Homo sapiens: one gene and its partners. Changing the gene in region 2 together with the main gene of any one other region gives a genetic interaction. Each region holds a gene or a part of one and is shown on either strand. Other genes may lie near its edges. The genes, in order: HDAC2, BRAF and FGFR2.

What was found.
Region 1: changes in BRAF (region 2) and HDAC2 together harm fitness more than expected from each alone (negative genetic interaction), as found in Homo sapiens cells (one large-scale study listed by BioGRID).
Region 3: changes in BRAF (region 2) and FGFR2 together harm fitness more than expected from each alone (negative genetic interaction), as found in Homo sapiens cells (one large-scale study listed by BioGRID).

Annotation. Positions count from the first base shown.
Region 1 is NC_000006.12:113,939,992-113,943,648, forward strand, and holds part of HDAC2 (histone deacetylase 2), read right to left. Parts: intron 3,516-3,657; coding exon 3,360-3,515; intron 1,775-3,359; coding exon 1,717-1,774; intron 1,098-1,716; coding exon 1,067-1,097; 3' UTR 1-1,066. UniProt on the Homo sapiens protein: Histone deacetylase that catalyzes the deacetylation of lysine residues on the N-terminal part of the core histones (H2A, H2B, H3 and H4).
Region 2 is NC_000007.14:140,774,872-140,778,528, forward strand, and holds part of BRAF (serine/threonine-protein kinase B-raf), read right to left. Parts: intron 3,205-3,657; coding exon 3,120-3,204; intron 2,218-3,119; coding exon 2,041-2,217; intron 1-2,040. UniProt on the Homo sapiens protein: Protein kinase involved in the transduction of mitogenic signals from the cell membrane to the nucleus. Phosphorylates MAP2K1, and thereby activates the MAP kinase signal transduction pathway. Phosphorylates PFKFB2.
Region 3 is NC_000010.11:121,500,945-121,504,601, reverse strand, and holds part of FGFR2 (fibroblast growth factor receptor 2 isoform 1 precursor), read left to right. Parts: intron 1-660; coding exon 661-812; intron 813-3,654; coding exon 3,655-3,657. UniProt on the Homo sapiens protein: Tyrosine-protein kinase that acts as a cell-surface receptor for fibroblast growth factors and plays an essential role in the regulation of cell proliferation, differentiation, migration and apoptosis, and in the regulation of embryonic development.

The DNA of each region.
Region 1 (3,657 bases), on a different chromosome or scaffold from region 2:
GGAGATTTCACTGATTTTGGCAAGTTCCTAAAATGTTTTGTCTTCTTTGCACATCTTAGTAGCAGGAGTTACCCCCATTTGTCTGCTTCCTGCTACTAGAATGTAAGCTCTGAGTGTAAGCTCTGAGTGAAAGCATTTTTCCATTATATTCAGTTACACTCCTACAGTCTTAAAATGGGCAGACACACAATAAGTAGTTGCTGAATGATAAATCAGTTGTGTTTATTTCCTTGAGTTAGAAACCTGGATGTCACGTAAATAATAATGGAACCTGGATGCCATGTAAATGCAGTAAAAGAAACAGGTTTTGTCTGCAGGTTCCATTTTAAACCAGCAATATACTATAGGCAAGTCTGGTCAATACAAGTTCTGGTCAGTTTCTTCTTTCAATTCAGAATTTCCATTTCAATTTTGAGAATCTTTGGGTCAACTCAAAGAACTCCTACATCTCAATTGCAGAGTCTGTATTATTTCATAAATTGTAATGGGATGTTAATCTTCACTGATACTAACTGGCTAAGCTATAGAGGGCAAGGTGGTAGAATTTCTATTGCAAAGATAAGTAATAATTACTATAAATACTCTTCCCAAAGAAACAGCAAATAGTTATCTTTCAAGCTGTAATCATTATCTTTCACCTAGAGTGTATTGTAAGTCTACAGAAATGATGTCATTAGCCACTGAAACAAGACTTCATATTGTAGTAATAAACAGACAAAAGATAATCCAAGTACAATTTTTTAATAAAGATAATTACAAAAGATGGAAAAATCAGCTCAGAAAGGCCAATTACTTCTTTAATAGATCAGTTTTTTTGACATAATAACTCACATCAATTTTAAATACTATCACATAAAGCATGGTGGAGAAAAGAAATTTTGCTTCATAATTAGAAAAACTCACAATAAAACTTGCCAAGAAAAACAAAAACGAAAAAGCCATTTGAAAATAAATACAGTCCATGCCAAAGTAGTATAAAATGAAGCCAGAAGTCTTCAAAAAGAAAACATTTTCCTTTCAATATTTTCTTTTTAATGATTTTCTGAAATTGGTGAGACTGTCAAATTCAGGGGTTGCTGAGCTGTTCTGATTTGGTTCTGTTAAAAGAGGCAATGTGAAATATTAAAAATGGCACAATCTTGGTTTAAATGCACTGACCTATTATATTGATCAGGTCCTGTAGGCTCATGCTAAGAAACACATTAATTGATAATGTCTTAAGTGTTTCTGGAGTAATTAATGCCTTAATTTTTCTAGTGATTTAATAAACTATTCCAAGTTATCCTGTAAAGGCTGGCACAAAATTATGTGTGCCCAAACATTTACATGCTTTCTGACACTAAAATCCTCAACTGTTTTTACTTAAAATTGTTTCTTAAATTTACCTATCTCACAACACTAAAAAAATCATGTACACAGAAATAAGAACACCATGAAAACCATTAAGTGCATATATAAAAGATAACAGCAAAAAAGGGTCTCAGATAAACTACGTACAAGAATACAAACTGACTGATATAGTTATACTGATAAACCAATAGGTAAGATGGCATATGTTGTCTTATGTACCAATACAAACTAAAATTCAGAGCACCTCATAATGATGTTCTAAGGTTCAGTCTAGTATTTCTGAAGTGTGTACACAAACACACACCAATAAACATGTTTAGTATTTTTATAGTATGTAAAAAGTACTTGATAAGGAACATCATTTACCCTTTGGTATCTGTTTTTTCACCACTGTTGTCCTTGGATTTATCTTCTTCCTTAACGTCTAAAAATAAAGATTGGGAAAAGATTAAAACCTATTTTGAAATATAAAATGTATATATATTATTTCAAAATATACTTTATTTTTAAAATATAAAAAGTTATGCAATCTTATTATTAATGAATTCGGTCTAAATAAGCTTTGTGTTGGGTGTTTCCTAAACGATGGCAGTACAAGCTATGAATAGTCACTGGATTGGGGTGCAGAGGGAGAAAAGGTGGCCCTAACTCTAGGTTTTGACCTATAGATTTAAAAAAAGCTTTCTGTGGTAGTATTTCATTTTTCAGTAGGCTGAAGAATTTTAACAACTGCAAGGCCCTATCGAAAGAGCCTCATCACCAAATAGAGAGTTTATTTTTTAAGCACAGAAAAGATAAAGCTTTTAAAAATGAGAACACCAAAAACAGACAGACAAGAAAACATAGTGAAAATGAAAGAAAAGAAAAAAAGTTAGGAAAATCCTACAGCTAAAGTTAAGTCGTCCTTAATTCAGTCATGGCTTGAATTTTTGGATGTCAATCAGTTACAAATATAGACTGAAGCCATCATTGTAATACATTGGGAAGTTAAAATTATAAATTTCTGTATGTAGCCTATTGAGGAGTGAATCCACAAGTAAAAGAACAGAACTAAATGTGTCAGATGTTATAGATTACTAACTCTCTAGTTTAAAAAAAAAAAAAAAAGCTGGCTTATTCACATAACTTCAATTTGATAGACATAGGAAAAATTGGATCATTATCTCTAAATCAGTTTTTCACATACTACAGGATCAAAATTAACAGGTTAACTAAAACGTGTGCTCATCACCATTACTTGCATTAGGAAATGCATCAAGTGCTGAGAATACAAATATTTAAGATACTGTGTTCCCTAGCCATGAGCAGCTCAGTCTAGTAGGGAGACAAAATCCTGTGAGGTGCTATAATATGATGTGTTAAATAAAATGGCAGAGGCATGTGTAAGTGTTCTGGGAAGTCAGATGAAAGGTAACAGATTCCGGTAGCAAATTCAATTGCCTAAAGCTAACACAGCGTTTTAAAGTAAGGCAATGTATCAAAGTATTTTTTCCTCCCTAACCCAGGTCCCAAATCCCCTCCTAGCTTTCCTCAGAGTTTTTAATGTTTTCTTCAATTTCTGAACAAAATCCATTATTTGACCTTTTTCAAAATGGCAAAACTGGTCTAAGGATATGTAACTCTTCTTTGTGTTTTCTCCCATTAAATAAGCTTTAGGTAGCTAAAAATTACCTTAGAAGTTCAGTTCTGACCATGCACTACCAATAGATTCATAATTACTTTGTCCTCTTTCTTAACCAATCTATATCACAATGCAATGTTCACTATTTTAAACCTATGTTATCAAGAAAATAAGGTTTCCTGTATTACTAAAGCAAATAGGAACAATAACATTTATATAAAAGCTTTAAGAGCTAAGTACCACTTATATGTAAGAAAAAAGAGTCACCTACCTAGCATACTTCCTCCTGATACCTGTGCAACTGACTTCTCGATAGCATAAACATTATAATGCAGCCCAATTTTTAAAATTTACAATTAAAACACAATTACCAAGAAACAAATCTGACCTGTTTTTTTGTCCTCTGTTTCTTTCTTATCTTCTTCAATTCTAGCTTTCTTTGCTCCTTTCTTATGATCAGCCACATTTCTTCGACCTCCTTCTCCTTCATCCTCAGAATCTGAGAATTCTTCATCACAAGCTATCCGCTTGTCTGATGCTCGAACTGCACAGAATATTTTAATAAATTTTGACAAAAACAGTCACAGGTTTTATAATCATTACAGCATACTCATACAAATGCACTAAGCAGTTAGTTACCACATTTAAACGTAAAGGGTAACATGCCTAATGATTTTAAAATTTGA
Region 2 (3,657 bases):
AATCTATCAATAATATGCAGTTGTGTGTAATCATTTTCATTTAACAGTTATGTACTGAGTATGCCAGGTCCCATTCTAGGCATTAGGCATAAAATAATGAAAAAAAGCCCCTGCTCTCATACAGCCTGCATTCTAGTGGGGATAAAAGACAAGAAACAAGTCAGATGGAGCTATGCGTTATAAAGAAAATCAAGCCTATGGGTATAGAGAGTGACAGAGTGACGTGGGGACATGTTAGTTATATAAGGTGAGCAAGGATTTCTATTAAAAGGGGACATATGAACCGAGACACAAGGATATTTGTGGCATGTGTATCCTAAAGAGAATATAACAAACATAAAGGTCCTAAAGAAGGAACACGCTTGGCCTGCTGAAGAAATTGCAAAGAGACCAGTGGTGTGGGAAGAGAATAAGCCTTTGTTTCTCACTGAATGTTCACAATCTTTGCCATGGTTTACTCTTCACAAGATTTTAATTCTTTTTTTTTTTTTTTGAGACGGAATTTTGCTCTTGTTGCCCAGGCTGGAGTGCAATGGTGTGATCTTGGCCCACTGCAACCTCTGCCTCCCGGGTTCAAGTGATTCTTCTGCCTTAGCCTCCCAAGTAGCTGGGATTACAGGCTTGTGCCTGGCTCATTTTGTATTTTTAGTAGAGACGGGGTTTCTCCATGTTGGTCAGGCTAGTCTTGAACTCCCGACCTCAGGTGATCCGCCTGCCTCGGCCTCCCATAGTTCTGGGATTACAAGTGTGAGCCACTGTGCCTGGCCAAGATTTTAATTCTTTAAAAGCCTTTAGATTCGAACAGATTCAGAGATTCTAACTTATCTGAAACGTTGAGATTGTTTCAAGTCTAGGGGTAAGTGGGGGTGTTACTGAATAAGGTAATAATTTGCTGTAATAAGTATTTTGGCCGAATATAGGCTTGTAAACAATCTAAATTATAGATATATTGCCTAGTTTTGAGAAAGAGAAGGTGGTATAGTTGGAAGATCTAAGAGCCAGATCTGGTTTAGAGTCTTGGCTCTATACTTACTTGCTAGGAGCAATACTCAGTTAGAGTTGTAGGTGTTAGTACATATATACCCTTTTACTCTTTTATTCTAATTTTGTAATGTAAAAGTAGCATAGTGGTTATGGGGAAAGAATACTGGATTGGGAGTCAGAAATCCTGAGTTAAACACCTTTGGTGCCACTTATTAAATGTGTGCCCTTAGACAAGGAACTTAAAAGCCTCAATTTCCTTATCTGTAAAAAGAAAAAAGATCTCCTTCATAACATTATAAAGATTAAATGACATAATAATCTATGTAAGTGAAAGCAATTTGTAAAAAACAAAATTCAGATCATATCTATTTTTAAACTTCTCACAGAGCTTTCAAATTCATATTTTACTGAGTTTATAATTTTCACCTAAGTGCTTTCAAAATTTGTTTAATTTTACCTTTTAATTTACCTATTCATTTGCACTTAAGAGTTGCAAAATTTAAAATTTATCCTTCAAAGTCAGTTCCCCATATTAGCTTATGGTAAACTTTATAAAATAACTCCTTAAATTGCATAGCAAAATTCAACAGATAGGAACTCACTCTGAAATCCTCAAAAAGGGTCAGAATGCAGATTTTTCACTTTAACTTTATTAACTGACCATTTTGCAACCAAAAATACGGGCACTCAGAGAAACTGATTTGAAAAAGTAACTAACAACCATTCTGTTTACTTGCACAACTGCTAACAACTTTTTAGCAGGTTTTTGCTGTTTCTATCTTCTGAACCTCTCTTGCTTAGCTCAATCACTGAGTGCTAAGCCTAAGTTTGCAGTCATGTATTTATTATCAAATACTTGATATATGTTCTGAAGGCTGCACTAGACAGAGACATTTATTTTTTAGTATCATATTATTTACCAGCCATTAGTTAGCATCCTTATGTTCCTGGACAGTAATTTAAAATGCAATCCAAAAGAATAGCAGCCAAAACCTTTAAAACATCCTCAATGGTCTTCAAAAATAATTTACAAGACATTTAACGAATGGAACTTACTCCATGCCCTGTGCAGTCTGTCGTGCAATATCTATAAGTTTGATCATCTCAAATTTGGTCTCAATGATATGGAGATGGTGATACAAGCTGGAGCCCTCACACCACTGGGTAACAATAGCCAGTTGTGGCTTTGTGGAATAGCCCATGAAGAGTAGGATATTCACATGTCGTGTTTTCCTGTACAAAGAAATGTGACAGTAAACATTAAATGTCGACAAACTTTAGCAATTCTTACAAAAGAGAACCAAAGTAGTCTGTCGGTAAAATGTTGTCAGAAAAAGCTTTTTTTTTTTTAAAAAAGGCAACAAAAGGATACATTTAGAAGAGACTGGCAATTGCCAAGTCTAACCTCCTACTTTATGCAGAGATATCTTTTTAAATATATCTGACAGGCAACTAGAGGTTGCTTAAATACCTTCAACTATGGGAAGTTCATCACTCAGTTGTAGCTGACTCTCATATCTTTATTTAAGTGGTTCTGGTATTATAAAGTTTCCAAGTGTTGAGACAAAATCATTTTCTTACAACTTTCACCTCTGGCTTGCTTCCCTGGTCTGCTCTCTGGAATAACTTTTTTTTCCGCACTCTGGAATAACTGTGCACTCTCTTGAACATAACAGCCTTCTGTGAACTAAATATCCTCAGTTCTGTTGATTATTTTCCCCCGTTACACCTCTAGAATCTTCCCTATTTAGGTGGTCCTCACTAGGCATATCCTAGTTTGTCAATGTTTCTAAAATTCCAGAGCCCAGGACTAAATACCACCTCTAAATGTATTCTGATAAGCTTAAAACTGGAGAGTATTCTTTTCATAAGTAGAACTATTACTTTATATTATCAGAATACTATACTTCCATTAATTCAGTCTAGGACTAAGTATTCTATCAGCCATACCATATAACATTGCATACTACTTAAAAGAATGTGGTTAAAGACAAAAATATACTCAGACATACTCTGTTTCTACAAATTTATTCATTTTGAGTAAATCTGTAAAGCTAATAGTTGCTACCACTGGGAACCAGGAGCTAATAAAAATAACTTCTTTCTCTGGAAAAGAGTAATTCACACAAGCTCACCTGAGTACTCCTACTTCATTTTTGAAGGCTTGTAACTGCTGAGGTGTAGGTGCTGTCACATTCAACATTTTCACTGCCACATCACCTAAAAGGCAATTGTTACTCCAAGTGTCATTTCAATTTTTAAAATTTAAAAGTATAAAACATTCTTGGGTGTTTTCACTAATTATCATAGCCCTAACTCCATACCATTATTAAATCACAAATAAATTATACTTTAGCTATCTAAACTCCATTTGTTTTCTAAGGCTAAAAATTCAACTAACAATGATATTCCTGTACTAGTATTTCAAAATATCAATCCAAAAAATAGCCAACCTTGTTTGTTCCATGGAAATTTGGTAAAATCAATTAAGTACCCATGGTATTTTCCAAATTATTTGACAATATTAAATTATACTTACTAGGCTTAATATTTATTTACTAACTGAAACTGCAAGTAATGTTGAAACTACAATTACCAGGCCCTATGGAATTTTGCTTAAAAGTAGGAAACTATAAAACTTTTTTATCAGAGTAGTTAACATTTTTTTCAAAT
Region 3 (3,657 bases), on a different chromosome or scaffold from region 2:
CCCATTTCCACTGAATAGCCTGGCCATCAATAAGTTTCCAGAAGGACTGGGGAGAAACAAAGAATGGCCCCCAATGCTGGGGTCTGGGGTTATTTTGAGTTAAAGGGACTCGGAGCTACTGAATGTCTTCCACATTCAAGTCCTAGAACTCTTTCCTTGAGATATTCCACTTTACATTTCCAAAGACAGAGGAAATATGGTAGAGCCAATTTCCTAAAAGTTTTCGTAGAATTTCATAAGCACAGCATTGATCCATGATCCGGGTGGTCTGAGAGGGGATCCATTATCCAGGGCTCCAGTACAGGTGCAGGTACAACCATAAAGGCACTAATGAAGCCAGAGAGGACTGTCTGCATGTCCTCAAGTGACTCTCTGGAGGAATTAGGACAGAAAGAAAATTTACATTGTGATCAGATGGTATAGAAAAATTTCATAGAAAAACCTGAACATAGGAACATAAAATTTGGATGAAATCTGGTACTGCATGGACTGGAGGGCAGAGGAGTTAGATTCCAGTGGTTTTCTAATTTGGTTTCTGACTTCTGCCAGCCCCCAACCCATTCCTTTCTAAGATTCGATACTCTGGCTGGGCTCTGGCTGACTTCCAGCCTTCTCAGATGGAGCCAGGATTACATCTGTGTCTTTGCATTTTGTATCCAGGTTTCGGCTGAGTCCAGCTCCTCCATGAACTCCAACACCCCGCTGGTGAGGATAACAACACGCCTCTCTTCAACGGCAGACACCCCCATGCTGGCAGGGGTCTCCGAGTATGAACTTCCAGAGGACCCAAAATGGGAGTTTCCAAGAGATAAGTGAGTACTTCTCTTGGCCATGTCCCAGGATGGAGACTCAGCTATAAATGGGGATATTGGATTAACATTTTCTTTTTATGACCCTTAGCCACAAAGGTCTTGGTGTGATGATGTCAGCAGGAGTAAGATTGTATTTCTAAATAACCAACTCCTGGAAAAGAAAAAAATGGATTTAAAAAAAAAAATAACTCCTTGAAAGCAGAGCTACTTGCCCCTGGCTGGTCCCCAAAGAAGATGGCATCTGGTTATCATTTTTTAAGTGTCTGGGCAATTCAGACTCCGTCAAATGGAATAAAAGTAGAATTATCCAATTTATAAAACAGATCTGACATTCTAGCTTTTGGTTACTAGAACAAGACTGTTCTCTGTTCACTTCTGTGGAGAAATTAGATGCAGAATATAAATGGCCTTAAGGACCGCTACCCAGTGTTGCTGTTCTCATTGGTTATTAATGTCATATTGGGCTGAAAAGCTTCAAATATGGTACCTGACATCTAATTTCTGTGATCCATAATATTTTCCTTGTTGGATGATACAGAGGTGTGCCAATCAGATGTTTAGTCAAAATATGGCCACCTGGGTGGTGTTGGGGCTACGTATCTCTTGGTCTCGCTTGAACTCCACGTACTGGAGCTCCGTTGGGCTGCATTTGAATCCTGGCTTTGCCAGACAGTGGCTGGGCAACCTCGGGTGAGGCACCTGATTCTCTGAAATTCATTCTCATAAAATGAGGGTGGTGGTTCAGACCTCCCAGGACTGAGCAGAGTTCTTGGCTTGTGCGAGTTTTCCTTTCATTTCCCTTCACGTGGTGGTAACCTGGGAGCTCTGAACTGCAAACCTCAGCAGGATCATCGTGTGGGGCATGGAGTCAGTGGGCAGAATTTGAGCTCCTAGCCCTCGTCCTCTAGGCAGGGACCGACCCCTAGATCCTCCTTATGAAAGGAAGTGCAGTGGTCATTGTAGGGCTGTCCACTCACTTCTGGGGTACTTTTTGTCGTCACAGCTTGAGAGTACGGGAAGGTGGAAATGCTGACTACTTCTGCATCACATACACTGGAATAAGCTCTTGACTTGCTTATAAGCAGCTACCCTGTTTGCCTTGACATTTTCAGTAGCTCCTCAGATTATATACACTTCTCATGTGTACCTATACACATTTGGAAATGCAAAGATAAGCTCTTCCAGAGACTGATCTGATGAGCTCTATTTGGAAGGGAGAGGTAGCTTATGTGGCTGGCACTTCTGATTTTGATTCACGTGATGTCACATCAGTTTTGTTTCCCAAGTGCCAATTTAGAGATGTGTACCGTTAGCTAGGACTGAATAATTGTATGGATATTATTTGGTTAGAGTGTTAATGGAAGTAATTTCCAGTTGATTTGTATACTGTAGTGAAAAGACCACTCACTCATTCACTTATTCATTCACTCAAGGCATGTTAATTGGACATTTACTGGTGGGGCACCAGAGAAAACACAAAGAATGGTTTCTTTACCTGTAGGATGTGGAGAAATGGATGTTTCTTGTGAACTCCGCCAGCCCTAGTTTGTGTGTGATTATATACACAGATAGGTTCATGTGCACATTCCTATATATATAACTGAACTGGGGAGTTGTGATCATATTTTAAGAAATTGCAGCTTTCGGGTTTAGTCCATAGTTTTTGCCACCTGTGACACCACAGTCAACAGTGGAAGTCTGTATGTGCCCAACTGTTACCTCCCACCCGGGGTACCCTGAGTGTGGAAAATCTGAGTGCTAAACATTTCAAAACAGTGTTTAGCGCAAACGTAGGTGGAACAGATTTCCAATGAATGAAGGCTATTTAGAAGCAGTTTATTAGATCGGAGGCAGAAGTTATACAAAGAAAGGATTGTTATGCTTGTAGTAGCAAGGCGGTGGGACATAAATTAGCCATTTTTCCAATGCAAATATTTATTTTCTGCCAAGATGTTAAATTTAATTTTCGTTCTGGGTAGAAACAAAATGACCTCAGCATAGCACATGCTGCCCTTAGTCTTTATGCTGCACTTTTGCAAACTATTGTGTACTTACCTTAAATACTGTTTACTAATGGCAGCTCCATGCTTTGCTGTGTTATGCTTAAGTTAGAAAGAGCCGTATTCATAAGTATTCCAAAGACTTTTGCGTTTTGTTGGTTTCTGGAATGCACAAGGACAATATATGGCTATTCGTCCGATGTGCATAGACCTTGTAATCTTAGAAATTTAATTTGTGGTGTTCACTTTGGATTTTCTTCATTGTTAATTTTATGTAGTCATAAGGACTTTTAAACTTATGTCAAAAAAAAAGTCCCCAATTTTTTAGAATTTTCTTTTTAGTAAAAAATTAGAGATTCCTTGAAATGCTTTTAAGAGGCATATCCTGTAACTTGGCAAGGAATGTGACCATAAAATCCATTGGTATTTGAATAATAATTTTAAAGCCACCATTTTACAGGGACAAAAAAATAAGAACAGTCTTAACGTTTTTTCTTTGAGCCATTCTAAATTACAAATATTTAATTGGCTCAAGATCAAAAGCTCTTCTCTGGCACTTAGGAAAGCTGACCACCGCACTAGCAAGGATACCTTCCCTAAAGAAAATAAACCGAGAATACCAATGTGAAATTTAATAGCCGTTCCACCAGTAATTGACATTCTCTAAAACGTCACTAGGAAAATACTCAGGCGCGTGTGTACCCTAAGTCTCATTAGTTCCATATGATAAGCACTCCATGCTTTAGTAAGCCGCTGAAAGATTTTTATATTTAGTTCTGGAATTTCCCTCACTACACCCCATCACCAGATGCTATGTGCTAATCCCCTATTTACACATTTAGGCT